Homo sapiens: one gene and its partner. The main gene of each other region encodes a partner of the protein of the gene in region 2 in a complex. Each region holds a gene or a part of one and is shown on either strand. Other genes may lie near its edges. The genes, in order: KSR1 and MAP2K1.

Region 1 (7,007 bases), on a different chromosome or scaffold from region 2:
TGCCCCTATGAGAATCTAGTGCCGCTGCCTAACTTCATCCTATTGTGGTTGGAGAAGATGCTTTGTATGTTATGTTTAAATCTATTGAGACTTAATGTGTGGCCTACCACGCGGCCTATCCTGGAAAATGCTCCACAACCTAGCACTGTCTTATGAACATAGTAGGTGCTCAGTAAATGTCTGACCAGCAAATTCCTAGACTTCTGGAGAGATTCTGGAGTGAAAGCTGTGGCCTGAGTCCTGGATTGGCCACCCTGCAGCTGTGTGATCTTGGGTGAATACCTTAACCTCTCCGTTTCTCATTTTCCTCAGCTGAAACATCACAATTCTTACCTCATGGCCTTGTGAGGATTAAAGTGAGATGGTGTTTAGAAAGTACCTCTTCTCCACCTATCTGTATATATAACTGGCAATGAGGGGCTCCTAGATATTGGATTCAGATGAACACCACCTCATCCCTCCAAGGCTTCCATAAGGCTAAGGCATCTCCAGCTCAGGAGATGCTGGGCCTGCTCATGGCTTTGTTGCTGCTGGGGCCTGGATGATCTTCCTCTGCGCATTGTGGGCCATTGACGCTGTGCCTTCTCCATTCCTCCATCTGTTTAGAAACACCTGCCACTGAGGTCCTGGCATAACTTCTTCCTTTGGAAGGAGCTCCTTAATCTATAGACCAGGGGTTCAGTCACCCCAGACCTATCCATTCCCATGCCACCCATCCAAATGGTCCCCAGGACTCAGCTGGAACTGACCAAAGCAAAGACAAGCCCCAGAACACCTTGGTATAACTTTATTCACAAACTCCAGACACCCAGGCCTGGCTTAGCACAGAGGGCATGTTCTTGCCAGTGGCAAAAAAACCCGATACAGCATGTTTGTTAATACTAACCATTTTAATTTAAATTAATAGCATGTCTGGAAGACAAATGTAGTTGATAGAAAATATAAAAACTTTACTGTACAAATTTTACATCACATTCAAAAAAAGCAAGTGTGTGGCTTGTGGCCACAGAAGATGCTAGGTTTGCACGCTGATGAGATCCTGGCTAACACTGCTGCATAGCACAAACTCCAACTGGCTTCACATTTACGTCTCCACCCTCCCCCCACACCAAATCAACACAGAATAACACAGGTTTCCAGGGCTTGCCATTCCTCTCTGTGACCTCAAGAGGAAATGCCGTAGGATGACAGAGGGTGTTTTGATTTGGTGACATGGAGAGATCAACTTTGCTACACACTGCTCACAACCCCAAACTAGCTAGGATTCAAGACTTCGAGTTAGACAGAAACCCAGGGGGCTGCGGCTCTGGTGGTTAAAGGCAGCAGGGCTTCAGAGGTGAGGCTGGAAACTGGGGATGCCTGGAGGGCCAAAGCTTGGGCTCCACTCTCAGACCCCCGTGGGGACTTCCGCAGCCCCTAAGAGCTCTCCCCGAGCCCTCCCAGCCTTCTCCATCCCCTTCACAGTTGGCCGTGAGGGCTGAATTCACAGTATCTGTCATCCTTCGTGTGGAGAGAGCACACAGAAGGGCAGGTGTGCCTTCCTAACCTCAATTCACAGTCACTGAAATACAAGGGGAACAGAGGGGGCCATCATGGGGTGGGGTGGGGTTCTTTAAAGGCAGGCAGTGCAGAGGTGGCAGGCTGAGAGCCAGCTGCCCCCAGTCCTTCAGTTCCACCTTTGGGGCCCAGTGGCTTCTGGGTTCCTTGAAGACAACAGGGCCCCACCAGGTCATCAGTTCCTTAAGAGCAGGGACCATGACTGTTCCTATCTCTAGGTGCCCAGCACTTGCAGAAGACCAAGTGCACTGTAGTTGCTCAATGAGCGCTTCTTTAACTGTGATGCTCACGAGAAAAGCAAAACCCAGACTGACTTTCTGTGGGCCTGTGCATGCCCACTGCGGCCTGGTGTCAGGGGTCAGGGAGGAACTGAGCCTACTGTTCCTCCCAGTTGGACGGCTGAGCTGACATCCAACTGTGGGGCTCACCAGTACATCCATCAGGCCTGCTCTTGCCTGGACAAAGGCCACCATTGCAATAGAAAGGTGAAAGGCTGGAGACACACGTGATCCCTGGGAAGGGGCAGGTGTGTGGGAGGCCAAAGGGATGATGGGGCAAAATGAGCAGTCCCACCATAGCACAGAAACTCCACACGGAGCTGAATCCACGGGGTTTACAGCCTCCCCACACAGACTGGGAAGGGTGAAGATGCTGATGGCCAGGCACACTGGCACTGTAATACGGCTGTGCCCTCCCAGGAGGGGCTGACCAAGGGATGCCAGGCCTGGAGAGGAGGCAGCTCCACAGCTTGCTGGCAGAGCAGCTCATTTTCTGTGGCATTTTGACCAGACTCTGGTGCTAGGGAAGGGGCTGGAGACTGGGGCTCTGCTAGGCAGGTCTTAACTGGAAGGGGTGGGAGCCACACCCCTCCCTCCCCAAGTCTGAGCTCAGAGCATGGTCACAGGTTCTGGGCCTGAATCCAATCACGTCTCCACTCCCATCACCCTTTTTCCTTTCTGGTTTTGGAGTCTAATGCAACCTAATCTCCACTTAAGGGCTCCCTTGCCATCTGGAACTTTTTTCTGCAGTTAAGAGTTTCTAACGAAGACAAGCGTGGTGCTCTCACTTCAAAGACTTTTCCAAATCCAGCCCCTCCTGCTTCAAATGGACACAAGTAGAAGGCCTAATGGTGCTAAGGAAGGCTCTGCAGATGGGGGCCAGCTAGGTAGGTCTAAATGAAAGGGGTGATAGCCCACACACTGCCCAGCTGAACTCAGAGCATGGACAGAGGAGTCGGAAATAGGCTAAGGGGTTTCAGCAGGACTGAAATGGAAGAGGTGGGCAGTTCTAGAACCTTCTGGCATGACTGACAAAGGGTTTTTACAGTGCCAGGGTCACCCTGTGGCTGGGAAGTGGGCTCAGGTACTTTTGCCATCTACTCCTCCTTGTTCCCACCCATCCAGCCCTCATGGTCAGATGTCAGTCAGGGACTGGGATGTATCTAAAAGCCAAGGCCCTGAGTCCCATCACCTTGGTGCCTGCCTGGGGGCTTCATCAAAGACTCACATCTGTACAAGCCATGGATGTTTCCTCACCTTGCAGCAGAAACCCTGGCTGGGAACCACCGGGTGAGTCCAGACCTTTTTTGGATTCTGTTTCTACTTTTCCAGCAGGAGCAGCCTGGATTACAGGGGTGAGAAGGTGAACCCAAGCTCTCCAGGAATTCCAGACTCCATAAACTAGCTCAGTTCCTAGCCAGGGTTTCCTCTGCAAGACGAGGAAGGGGCAGTATCCCTTTGAAAGGACAAGGGGAGAGCCCTAGATAGATTTCCCTGATGGAGTCTTGGGCCAAAAAGCAGAGGCCAGATCAGACCTTCTGGGCTCCCCGCCCTACCCCAAGAACAGCTGCAATTACCATGTTTGTCTTCCTTCTGGCCCAGCATGGGTCCCTCACCGCCTACAAGGTCCTCAGAGGGGATGGCCATTTCCGCCATCCTGGCCGTCAGTGCCAGTGCATCTGCACAGACTGTTTTTATTATTACCTATTGTAAAACATCAGGTTCACTCAGGAGAAATATACGTGTAAACATTTGCTGTCTGTCATGACAGGTTTGGTTGTTGGTGGTGTCATTTTAAGAAATAGCAGGTGCAGCTCCATCTCCCGAGTGGGGTTTATGGCCAACAGTCTGAATCTAGGACGTGTGCTCCTGGTTTGCAGCGCTGGGCAGGCAGTGTTTTTTTGTCGTGGTGGTTGTTGGGATGTTTCAGAAACACATTTTAAAAAGAAAGAGATCAGCAGCGAAAAACCATATGGCTGGCTACATCTTTGGATTACTGGACTCCAGGACGCCCAAGCCAAACCTTTCAAACCGGGGTACAACTTTGCTGCTGTTAATGCTGCAAAGAGGAACAAAAACAAGAATTATAGCCCCATTGATCTTCATCAGAATTAGGGTAACACTAGCTAGGAAATGAGTTCAGCAGAGGACCTGGCCTCCAACAAGAAATGAAAATGACTGATTGGCCAACAGCCCTGGCAGAGCTGCCCCTGGTCATACTGCGTCCAAGGCCTCAGCTACACTCCAAGTAGTCCTACTTGGAGCAGCAACGGTGGCTCATTCATCTCCAAGTCCCAAGCTCCCAGCATGCTCAGTACTGCTGTGGGTTCCTAGGAATTGTTTTCTCATTTGCAGCCCAGGAAAGCTCTTGCTCCAAGTAGAACTGAGAGAGAAGAGAAACATGACTCCCAGGATACCAGGAGTGACAGGGCATGTTCCTTTTAGCAATAAACTCTAATACTGGGGTGCATCAGGGCCACCTGGGAAGCAGGTTGAAATGCAAATTCCTAGGGCCCCATTCCAGAGATCTGGGTTCAGCAGGTCTTGCTGGGGAGGGAGAACAGAAACCTGCATTTGGTAAACAGTGCATTGACTGCCACAGGGGACTCAGCAGCCATGCTCTTGACAAATGCTGACCTGGGGTCTGGTCTATGGTACACTGGGCAGCTGTAAAGGAAGTAACTTTGCCAGGGTGGCAGGGTGGGGACGGGGCAGAGACTTTGTTTTCATCAGAAAAATTGTCTGGAGCCAGGTACCTCTTTGCTTTAAGACAATTTTTCTGAGGGTGCCACTGAAGACACAACCCTTCCAAGCTGGTATCTTTCATGGCCACAGAACTTTCTGTGTCTTCTGATCTAACTCTACAGAGGGGACTGAGACAGGAGCCAGCGCAGAGGGTTCCTGTGACCAGGGTGCCAGCCTCAGGGCAGCTCTGAAATCATTCCACTCCTTGTTGGACAAAATCCCCACAGGTTAAAAGCCAAGCCAACACCCTCCCAACCTCCGCCCGCCCCGCACTAGGCACACACCCAGTGGGAGGCTGGTGTGCTCAGGAGGGTGGAAGGCATCTCACTAAGGTGTTAGCAGTGAGACAGAGCCACCCAAACAAAAACAAGACCAGCCCTCAGAAGAACACGGGAGCAATCAGTCATGTCCAGGAAGGTAGTTAGAAGCTGCCCAGACTGCCTTGGAGGGAGCTCAGTTAGTGGGATCCTCTGAGAGCAGTTACTTGGGCATATGCAGGCCACGTGGAGAGGGCAGAGGGCCAGTTTTTAAAACAAAGCAAAAGAAGTAGCCTCGAGAGAGACGACTGGAGCAGCAGAGGTGGCATCCCCTGGGTTAGTGCCCGCATCTCATTTTGCATTTTAGCAGAAGTCACGGTGCTGAGTTGTTGATTAGGAGGAAGAAAGCCCCTGGTGCATGCAAGGCAGCCAGGCCTACAACCTACAGAGGGAAAGAGAAGAAAGCAAAGAACAGCATCAGAATCATAGCCCCAATGCAGAGCCTGTCGGGAGCTAGAGGTCTGGCCAGAGCAGCTGGGCAGGGGACTCCCTTTCTCTTCCAGAGAGAAAGGGCCATCCTGGACTCCATCCCCCAGGCTTGGCTGCACTGCATGCTCAGAAGGGATCCTGGGCACAAAGAACCCTCTCTAAGCTCCCGCAGGGCACAGTTGCAGCACGTTTATAAAGAGGATGGAACATGCCCACAGCTCCTTAGCCCTTGACGAGTAAAATCTACTTCCAAGAGTATTTCTGCTTAACTGGATTCTCTTCTCTTGAGCTCTGGCCAGGGGGACTGGGATCCTGGGGGCTCAAATCAATGACCAGAATTTTCTCCGACCCAGGGACAAGCCACCCATTCACTCATGGTGTGGACAAAGGCCCCGCCACATGCTGTGGCTCTTCTCTCACCCAGCGAAAAATGCAAGCCTGTGTGACCCTTGCTGGAAGCCATTTCAGCTGCAGAAACCTCACTTTGGTTTGCGAGAATAAATGACACAAAGATGGGAGAAGCTGGGAAGCGGCGACAGAAAGGAAGCAGGGCTTGTGTCAGGAAAACCAGAGACAGGCAGCCAGCGAAGGAAGTAACAGGAACACACTATTCCTCCAGAATCGGACAGGAGCTCTTAAAGTCAGGGTGGCCGTAGCGTCCTTTTCCATAGTAGCGGCTCCTCCAGCGACTGGGAGTGCCCAGCGACCATTCCACCAGGCGTGGGAAGAGCGCAGTCCGGCCCCGGCATGTGATGGAGTCAGGCACGTGTGGACAGGTGGAGGAATCAGGTGATGGGAAAGTGGGAGATGACAGAACAGCACATCCGCCACCCCCCGAAAATAAAAAAGTGACAAGATCAATGGAAAGAAAAGAGAAAGTGAGAATTAGGGGGCAAGCGTGTAGAAAGTAAACACTGTGAACAGGAAGCTTTGACACAGACTCATTCAGGAAAGGAAAGCCCGCATGCTTTCCTCGAAGGGGCTGGGCAGGGAACAGCCCCATCTGTGACTCAGTTTCCTGCCTGTGAAATGAGAAGGTGGGACTATATGGTTTTTGGGGAATCTGGAATGATGTTCTGAATGCCAGTGTCCACCTAGTGGAGCCTTTTCTTTCGTCACGGAGAAAACCAGGGCCCAGCTTGTTAAGCAAGTTGCCCACGGTCTGATTAGAGCTTGGCCTCGCTGCCTCACATCACCCTCCTTGAACTGCTAAGAGCCCCATGCTCCTGGTCTCTGCTGGGATAGTTCTGGCTCAAAACCCAGCCCTGACGACCTTCTTCCAGAGACTCTTCCTCCTGTCCCCCAGGTGGATGCAGAGGCCCCCATCTGGGCTTTATCACAGCACTTGGCATGGTATCACCCTTTGCTCACATTCATTCATGCACATTAAATATTTAGTGCCCAACTATAATGTTCCTGGGACTGTACTAGGAGCCAGGAATACAAAGGTGACAAGAAAGAGTCCTGATGTGTGCAGGTTTCATTACAGTGTGTCTGTTTGTCTTTAGGACACTGCAATCTCCTTGCTGGTGGAACCCTGGCCTCGGCCATCTGTGTAGCAATGCGGCAGGTGTGCAGGCATGCGGCAGGTGTGCAGCAATGGCTGCCTAAAATGTATACCTCTATGGCTACGATCCATTACCCCACAGTTGTACTGGACTCCGACCCATCCTAAGAGCAA
Region 2 (7,000 bases):
GGAGTTCAAGACCAGCCTGGCCAACATGGTGAAACCCTGCCTCTACTAAAAATACAAAAATTAGCTGGGAGTGGTGGTGTGCGCCTATAATCATAGCTACTTGGGAGGCTGAGGCAGGAGAATCGCTTGAACCCAGGAGGCAGAGGTTGCAGTGAGCCGAGATCACGCCATTGCACTCCAGCTTGGGCAACAAGAGCAAAACTCTGTCTCAAAAAAAGAAAAAAGAACTATTATAACTAAGTAGGGAGTGATGTAACTGAGCATGGCATGGAGTTGCTCAGAAAAGACTACACACATTGGAGATAAGCTTTATGTAAGATCTTGAAAGATCGGTACCATCCGGGGCAGATACGGTGTCTCACGCCTGTAATCCCAGCACCTTGTGGGGCTGAGGCAGGCATATCACCTGAGGTCAGGAGTTCGAGACCAGCCTGACCAACATGGTGAAATCCTGTCTCTACTAAAAATAAAAAAATTAGCCGGCCATGGTGGTGTGTGCCTGTTATCATAGCTACTTGGGAGGCCGAGGCAGGAAAATGTGGGAGGCGGAGGTGGCCGTGAGCCAAGATCATGCCACTGCACTCCAGCCTGGATGAGAAGAGTGAAACTCCATCTCAAAAAAACAAAAGGGCCGGGCACGGTGACTCACACCTGTAATCCCAGCACTTTGGGAGGCCGAGGAGGGCGGATCACGACATCGAGGCCATCATTTTTAAATTTTGTACTAAAAATACAAAAATTAGCCAGATGTGGTGGCGCATACCTGTAGCCCAGCTACTTGGGAGGCTGAGGCAGGAGAATCGCTTGAACCCGGGAGGCATAGGTTGCACTGAGGCGAGATCGCGCCACTGCACTCCAGTCTGGGGACAGAGTGAGACTCATCTCCAAAAACAAAACAAAACAAAAAAGATGGGTACCATTTATTTTATTCTAGGCCCCACAGCAGACGGTGGAGAAATACCAGTACACAAGACAATCACAGTCCCTGTTTTCACAGAAGTTAAAGTGTAGTGGCAAGTATAAAACAAAAATAAAAACATGCAAGAGGGCCAGGCGCCTGTAATCCCAGCAGTTTGGGAGGCTGAGGCAGTGGATCACCTGAGGTCAGGGGTTCGAGACCAGGCTGGGCAACATGGTGAGACGCCGTCTCTACTAAAAATAACAAGAATTAGCCCGGCGTGGTGGTGTGCGCCTGTAATCCCAGCTACTCGGGAGGCTGAGGCACGATACTCACTTGAGCCCAGTGGGCAGAGGTTGCAGTGAGCCAAGATCATGTGACTGCACACTCTAGCCTGGGTGACAGAGTGAGACTCCGTCTCAAAAAAAAAAAAAAAAAAATCATGCAAGAAAGTGGAGGAGGGCATTTCAGACAAAAAAAAAAACCATGTCAGCAAGACCAGACAGATGTAAGAAGGTAAGCAACAGTATGCTGGTGGCACAGTGAGGAGAGTAAAGAAAGTGGTAAGTGGACCACAGCAGGTGAACGGAAAAACAGAGGAAAATTAAGCTAGATAGGCAAGGCAGGGCCAACAGCTACAGGAGTACCCACTTAAATGTAGTTTTGCTTTGACAATTCCAGTTACCCACAGTGAGTACAGTAACCACATTCATGTAACTGTCATTACAATATATTGTTATAATTCTTTTTTATTGGTTATTATTGTTAATCTCTTACTATGCCTAATTTATAAATTAAACTTCATCATAGGCATATACTGCATAGGAAAAAACACAGTATATGCAGGGTTTGGTACTATTGATATCTGTGGTTTCAGGCATCCACTAGGGGTCTTGGAACATATGCCACTCAGATAAGGGAGGACTACTGTACTCTACCACAGTATCTTCTTCCTTTCTTTGAAAGGTGCATAAATAAGTGAAACTGGAATTCTGTGAGTGTTTATATTCAAACAAGAGTCCCATATATTTCCTTGCCATGGGCTAAATCATCTTTAAGACTTTCTTTGCTATTACTGTATCTGCTGTAACAGCGGCAGAGATGTTCTTCCCAAAGACACAGGCTTAAGCAGGCCTTTTTCACATGAAGCTGTTCTGAAAGACAGCACCAGTATTAGTTACTGCATCAACTACCCAAAAGAAGCATCCAAGTTCAAAACTACAAAATCAGTGTGAAACCACTTCAAAAGCTCCTACTTATCAGGCCAGACATGGTGGCTCATGCCTGTAAACCCAGCACTTTTGGGAGGCCAAGGAGGGAGGATTGCATGAGGCAAGGAGTTTGAGCCCAGCCTGGGCAATACAGCAAGACCCTATCTCTAAATTTTAAAATTAGCCAGGCATGGTGGTACATGCCGGTAGTACTAGCTACTTAGGAGGCTGAAGCAGGAGGATTCCCTGAACCCAGGAGTTCAAGGTTATAGTGAGCACCAATGCACTCCAGCCTGAGTGTCTGAGCAAGACCCTGTCTCTCAAAAAAAAAAAAAAAAAAAAAGTTCCTGGTTATCATCATGGTACACATCTCAGAAAGAGCCATAAGAGACAAAAAAAAGCACATCAACCTGTCTCAACCTTTCTTCCTCCAGGGCCTTCACACTCTAACAGATGTGTGTTCCTTACAAACCTGGCAGAACTGCTGATGCTATGAACTACACCCTGAATGCAATAAGTAAGTCTGAGTGTTTCAGGGTTACATAGAAACAATTCAAAATCCAAAATCATGAACGCTACTAAGGCCAAGCAGTGAACCCTCCTAAGGTTATTCGGCACCTTATAGCCTTCAAAGAAATTTTATACATCTTCAAAGGTATTCCTCTGAGGTAGGATCTAGTCAATCATTTAATCAACAGGTATCTACTGAGTATTTTCTATGTGCCAGAATCTGTTCTACACACTGAGCAATGAACAAGGCAAAGCCCCAACCATCATGAAGCTTACACTTGGGGTGGCAGAAGAAGATAAATACTTATACACGATGTAACATCAGTTAGTGATCAGCGCTACAAAGAAAAATAAGGCAAAATCAAAGGGTAGAAAATGACAGGGAGTTCTGTATTACAGTGATCAAAGATGGCCTCTGTGAAGAGACATTTCAACAGAGGGGTGAAGGAAGTGAGGAAGCAAGTCATACGGTATTTGAGAGACAAGCTTTCCAGGCAGCAGGAATGGCAAATGCAAAGATTCTAAGATAAGAATGTGCCCAACCTACAACCCAACAGCACAAAGGACAGTGTGGCTAGAGTGCATGAGTGAAGAGAACACTGGAAGAAAACTAAGGACCTGGTCAGGTAGGGCCTTGTAGGCCACCATGGTAAAGATTTTGTAAACAATTATCACCTCCACTTTACAGATTAAGGAAACCAAGAGTCAGAAAGTAGAAAGGACTTGCCCAAGGTCAAAGAAAAAGTGAGATCTTGAGAGGTACCCTGCCTCACTACTGCAACTGGATTAACGGTATTGTTTTAAAGAAAGAGATTAATAGCCGGTGCGGTGGTTCACACCTGTAATCCCAGCACTTTGGGAGGCCAAGGAGGGCAGATCACAAGGTCAGGACTTGGAGACCAGCCTGAGCAATATAATGAAACCCTGTCTCTACTAAAAATATAAAAATTAGCTGGGCATGGTGTCAGGCACCTGTAATCCCAGCTACTCAGGAGGCTAAGGCAGGAGAATTGCTTGAACCTTGTGGGGAGGGGTTGCAGTGAGCCAGGATTGCAACACTGCACTCCAGCCTGGGCAACAGAGTGAGACTCGGTCTCAAAAAAAAAAAAAGAGAGAGAGAAAGAGATAACATGCCTTATCCTGGAAGGAGAGACAATGTACCCTAAGACCCAGCAATTCCACTTCTGAGTACATTCCACAGGAAACTCTCTCACAACATCCAAAGGAGACAAGGATGTGCAAGGATGGGCATGGTCATGACTGTTTGAGGCAGCAAGGGGTTGGGAAACAACAAAGATGTCTAATTCTAGAGAAATAAATAAGTAAAATGTGGCAGGCAAACATGACTGCTCTACAACCAAGAGAAATAATGAACTAGACACATATTGTATAGCATCATGAATAGAGCTCAAAACAAAATTGGTTAAAAAAAGAAACTAAGGCCAGGCATGGTGGCTCACGCCTGTAAGCCCAACACTTTGGGAGGCTGAGGCAGGCGGATCATCTGAGGTCAGGAGTTCGAGACCAGCCTGACCAACATGGTGAAACCCTGTCTCTACTAAAAATACAAAATTAGCCAGGCACGGTGGCACATGCCTGTAATCCCAGCTACTCAGGAGGCTGAGGCAGGAGAATAGCTTGAACCTGGGGGGCGGAGGTTGCGGTGAGCCGAGATCATGCCATTGCACTCCAGCCTGGGCAACAAGAGCAAAACTCCATCTCAAAAAAAAAAAAAAAAGAAAAGAAAAGAAAACAAAGAAGAAACTGATATAAAATTTAGGGATGGTCATTGCTTCTGTTCAAATACTCCTGGTGCACCAGCACAGTGGCTCATACCTATAATTTCAGCACTTTGGGAAGATGAGGTGGGCAGATCGCTTGAGCCCAAGAGTTCAAGACCAGCCTGAGCAACATGGTGAAACCCCATCTCTACAAAACAATCAAAACTTAGCAGGGCGTGGTGGCACGCACCATTATACTCCAGCCTGGGCAGTGGGAGCGAAACCCTTTCTTAAAAAAAAAAAAAAAAAAAAAAAACCCAAAAAAAACACACAAATATTCGTGGTTCTCCCCCTTCCAAAAAGGTCACTGCCCTCCTTGAAGGTCAACATGGCCACATGATTTGCTCTGGCCAAAGAAATGGCAGCAAAAATGACAAGGCTCACCTCTAGGCAAAACTTTAAGAGCCTGAATGTAGCTCTTCACAAGATTCCCTCCTCATGTAGGTATACTTGAGAGACGATGCCTCGATCAGCCTGGATCCCTAAAGGACTCCAATCTACAGAGCCTCCCACTGACCTGAAAGTGTGTTAAATTACTGAGATTTTGTGGTTGTTACCTCAACATAACCTATTCTATCCTGTCTATGAAATGCAGATTTGTAGCACAATAACATTTTAGAATCCTAAGCAGATACATACAAAACCATCCTTCTACTTCCCAAGGGTATACACATAACCAGACTAACAGGTGGAATTATAAAACCATATAAATATCTTAGAATGGTTGAGTGGGTGACTAAAACAAAAGAAAATGGGGAAAAAAGGAATGAGCATAAAGGGGAAAAGAAAAGGAAAAGACATAAAAAGGTTTATTAAACCCGTTGTGCAAATATTAGAAATTTCATTCACTCACTGACTCAACAAACATCTATGGACCTATTATGTGCCAGAACTATTTTGGGTGTACTTACAGAGTGGTGAGTCAAAAAAAGGCAGTGCAGGCTGGGCACAGTGGCTCACGCCTGTAATCCCAGCACTTTGGGATCACGAGATCAGGAGATCGAGACCATCCTGGCTAACATGGTGAAACCCCATCTCTACTAAAAATACAAAAAATTAGCTGGACGCAGTGGTGGGCGCCTGTAGTCCCAGCTACTTGGGAGGCTGAGGCAGGAGAATGGCATGAACCTGGGAGGCGGAGCTTGCAGTGAGCCGAGGTAGTGCCACTGCATTCCAGCCTGGGCGATAGAGCGAGACTCCGTCTCAAAAAACAAAAAGGCAGTGCTGTGCTTAAAGTTTATAGTGTACAGGAGAGATAAATATTAAGAACACCCCAATGAAAAATTACAATGATTAAGTCTTATTAAAAGCTCAGGTGAGCGCCAGGCACAGTAGTACCCACCTATAGTCCCAGCTACTCAAGAGGCTGAGGTGGTAGAATCACTGGAGTCCAGGAGTTCAAGAACCAGCCTGGGCAACATACCAAGACCCCCATACCAAAAAAAAAAAAAAAAGCAGCAGCTCAGGTGACATGACAAAGAGGGACCACATTCCTCTGAGATGCTTATAAACATCTCAGAGGAAGTGACATTTAGGCAAATAGGTGAAGACTGCTTCCTGCCTACCTAGGGAAGGAGGAGTGATTCATTCCAGGCAAAGGGAACAGCATGTACAGAGGCCTGCAGTGCGTATAGACCATCCCATAGAGGAAGTGAAAGAGGACTAGTGTGGTGGAAGAAAGGAGTGGCAGGAAATGTGGTTAAAGAGATTGGTGGGAGGGGGTGGTGGGGACAACAGGCAGATCACTCAGTCTCATAGTCCAATATAAGGAGTTTGGATTTTGTGTAACTGCAATAGAACCAGAAGAACATTTTAAACAGAGGAACAATATTATCTCATTATCTCATTCTAACACTTAAGACCCTAGTAATATGCTCACATGTTTCTGCAAAATACACAAAAGAAAGCTATTTTTGCATGATTTTTCTTTGAGGACCCCTACAACTTGCATCAACTTCAGGTCCCGTATTACCCAACTCCATCTCTGAACTGGGTAAGGGCTATGTTAGAGGTAAGCACAGGTGCCAAGGGAAAAGCAACCTTGCCAATTTGGTACCAAGAGTTCTTTACTGTCAAAATGGATTTTCTTCCTCTTTAGTTCACATTGTCTGATAACGTTCAAAATTGTGCCCTGGTCTAATCACAGAAATCATGAAAGCAACAGAATTCTTTCTGCTGGTAGCCCAAGATAGGGAACATTTTGCTTGAGGAACACTCTCAGAAGTGAAAGATGAAGATGTGTACAGCTTTCCCTCTCATTAGTGCTATGAAACACAGGGAAACAGTCCCTGTTTGTCTTGGGCAGCCTACACAAAGATGCCTCCTATTGTAACACAGCAATGAGTCATAGAGGTAGATGCAGATGGTACAAAAAACCAAACTAGGGAGAGTTGATTGTCCAGAAGCAAAGGCACCTTAACACATAATCTACCACCATGAATGAAAATCACCTTCCAGTTTCCTTTGGTCCAACACTTAGGCAGTAACAAAGGCACCAGCAGCCAACAGCTTTGGAAGTTTACTATGTACTACCTCATTTAATCTTCACAACTATGCTAAGTAGGTTCTATCATTAGCCCCATTTTTGCAGATGAAAAAAA

What was found.
Region 1: the proteins of MAP2K1 (region 2) and KSR1 are in contact, whole or in part, in a crystal structure (PDB 9AXH), measured with the Homo sapiens proteins. Residues at the interface, in NP_002746.1 of Homo sapiens: Asp217, Ala220, Asn221, Ser222, Phe223, Val224, Gly225, Thr226, Arg227, Ser228, Met230, Arg234, Leu235, Gln236, Gly237, Met308, Ala309, Ile310, Phe311, Leu314, Asp315, Val318, Asn319; in XP_011523731.1 of Homo sapiens: Asn767, Gln768, Leu769, Lys770, Leu771, Ser772, His773, Leu776, Val784, Arg785, Met787, Thr788, Pro789, Asn823, Gln824, Ala825, Ala826, Glu827, Ala828, Ser829, Ile830, Trp831, Gln832, Gly834, Ser835.

The regions. Positions count from the first base shown.
Region 1 is NC_000017.11:27,620,201-27,627,207, reverse strand, and holds the end of KSR1 (kinase suppressor of Ras 1), read right to left. Parts: intron 6,016-7,007; coding exon 5,935-6,015; intron 5,280-5,934; coding exon of another isoform or gene 5,273-5,279; exon of another isoform or gene 3,895-5,272; coding exon 3,816-3,894; 3' UTR 773-3,815; downstream 1-772.
Region 2 is NC_000015.10:66,389,912-66,396,911, reverse strand, and holds part of MAP2K1 (dual specificity mitogen-activated protein kinase kinase 1), read right to left. Parts: intron 1-7,000. UniProt on the Homo sapiens protein: Dual specificity protein kinase which acts as an essential component of the MAP kinase signal transduction pathway.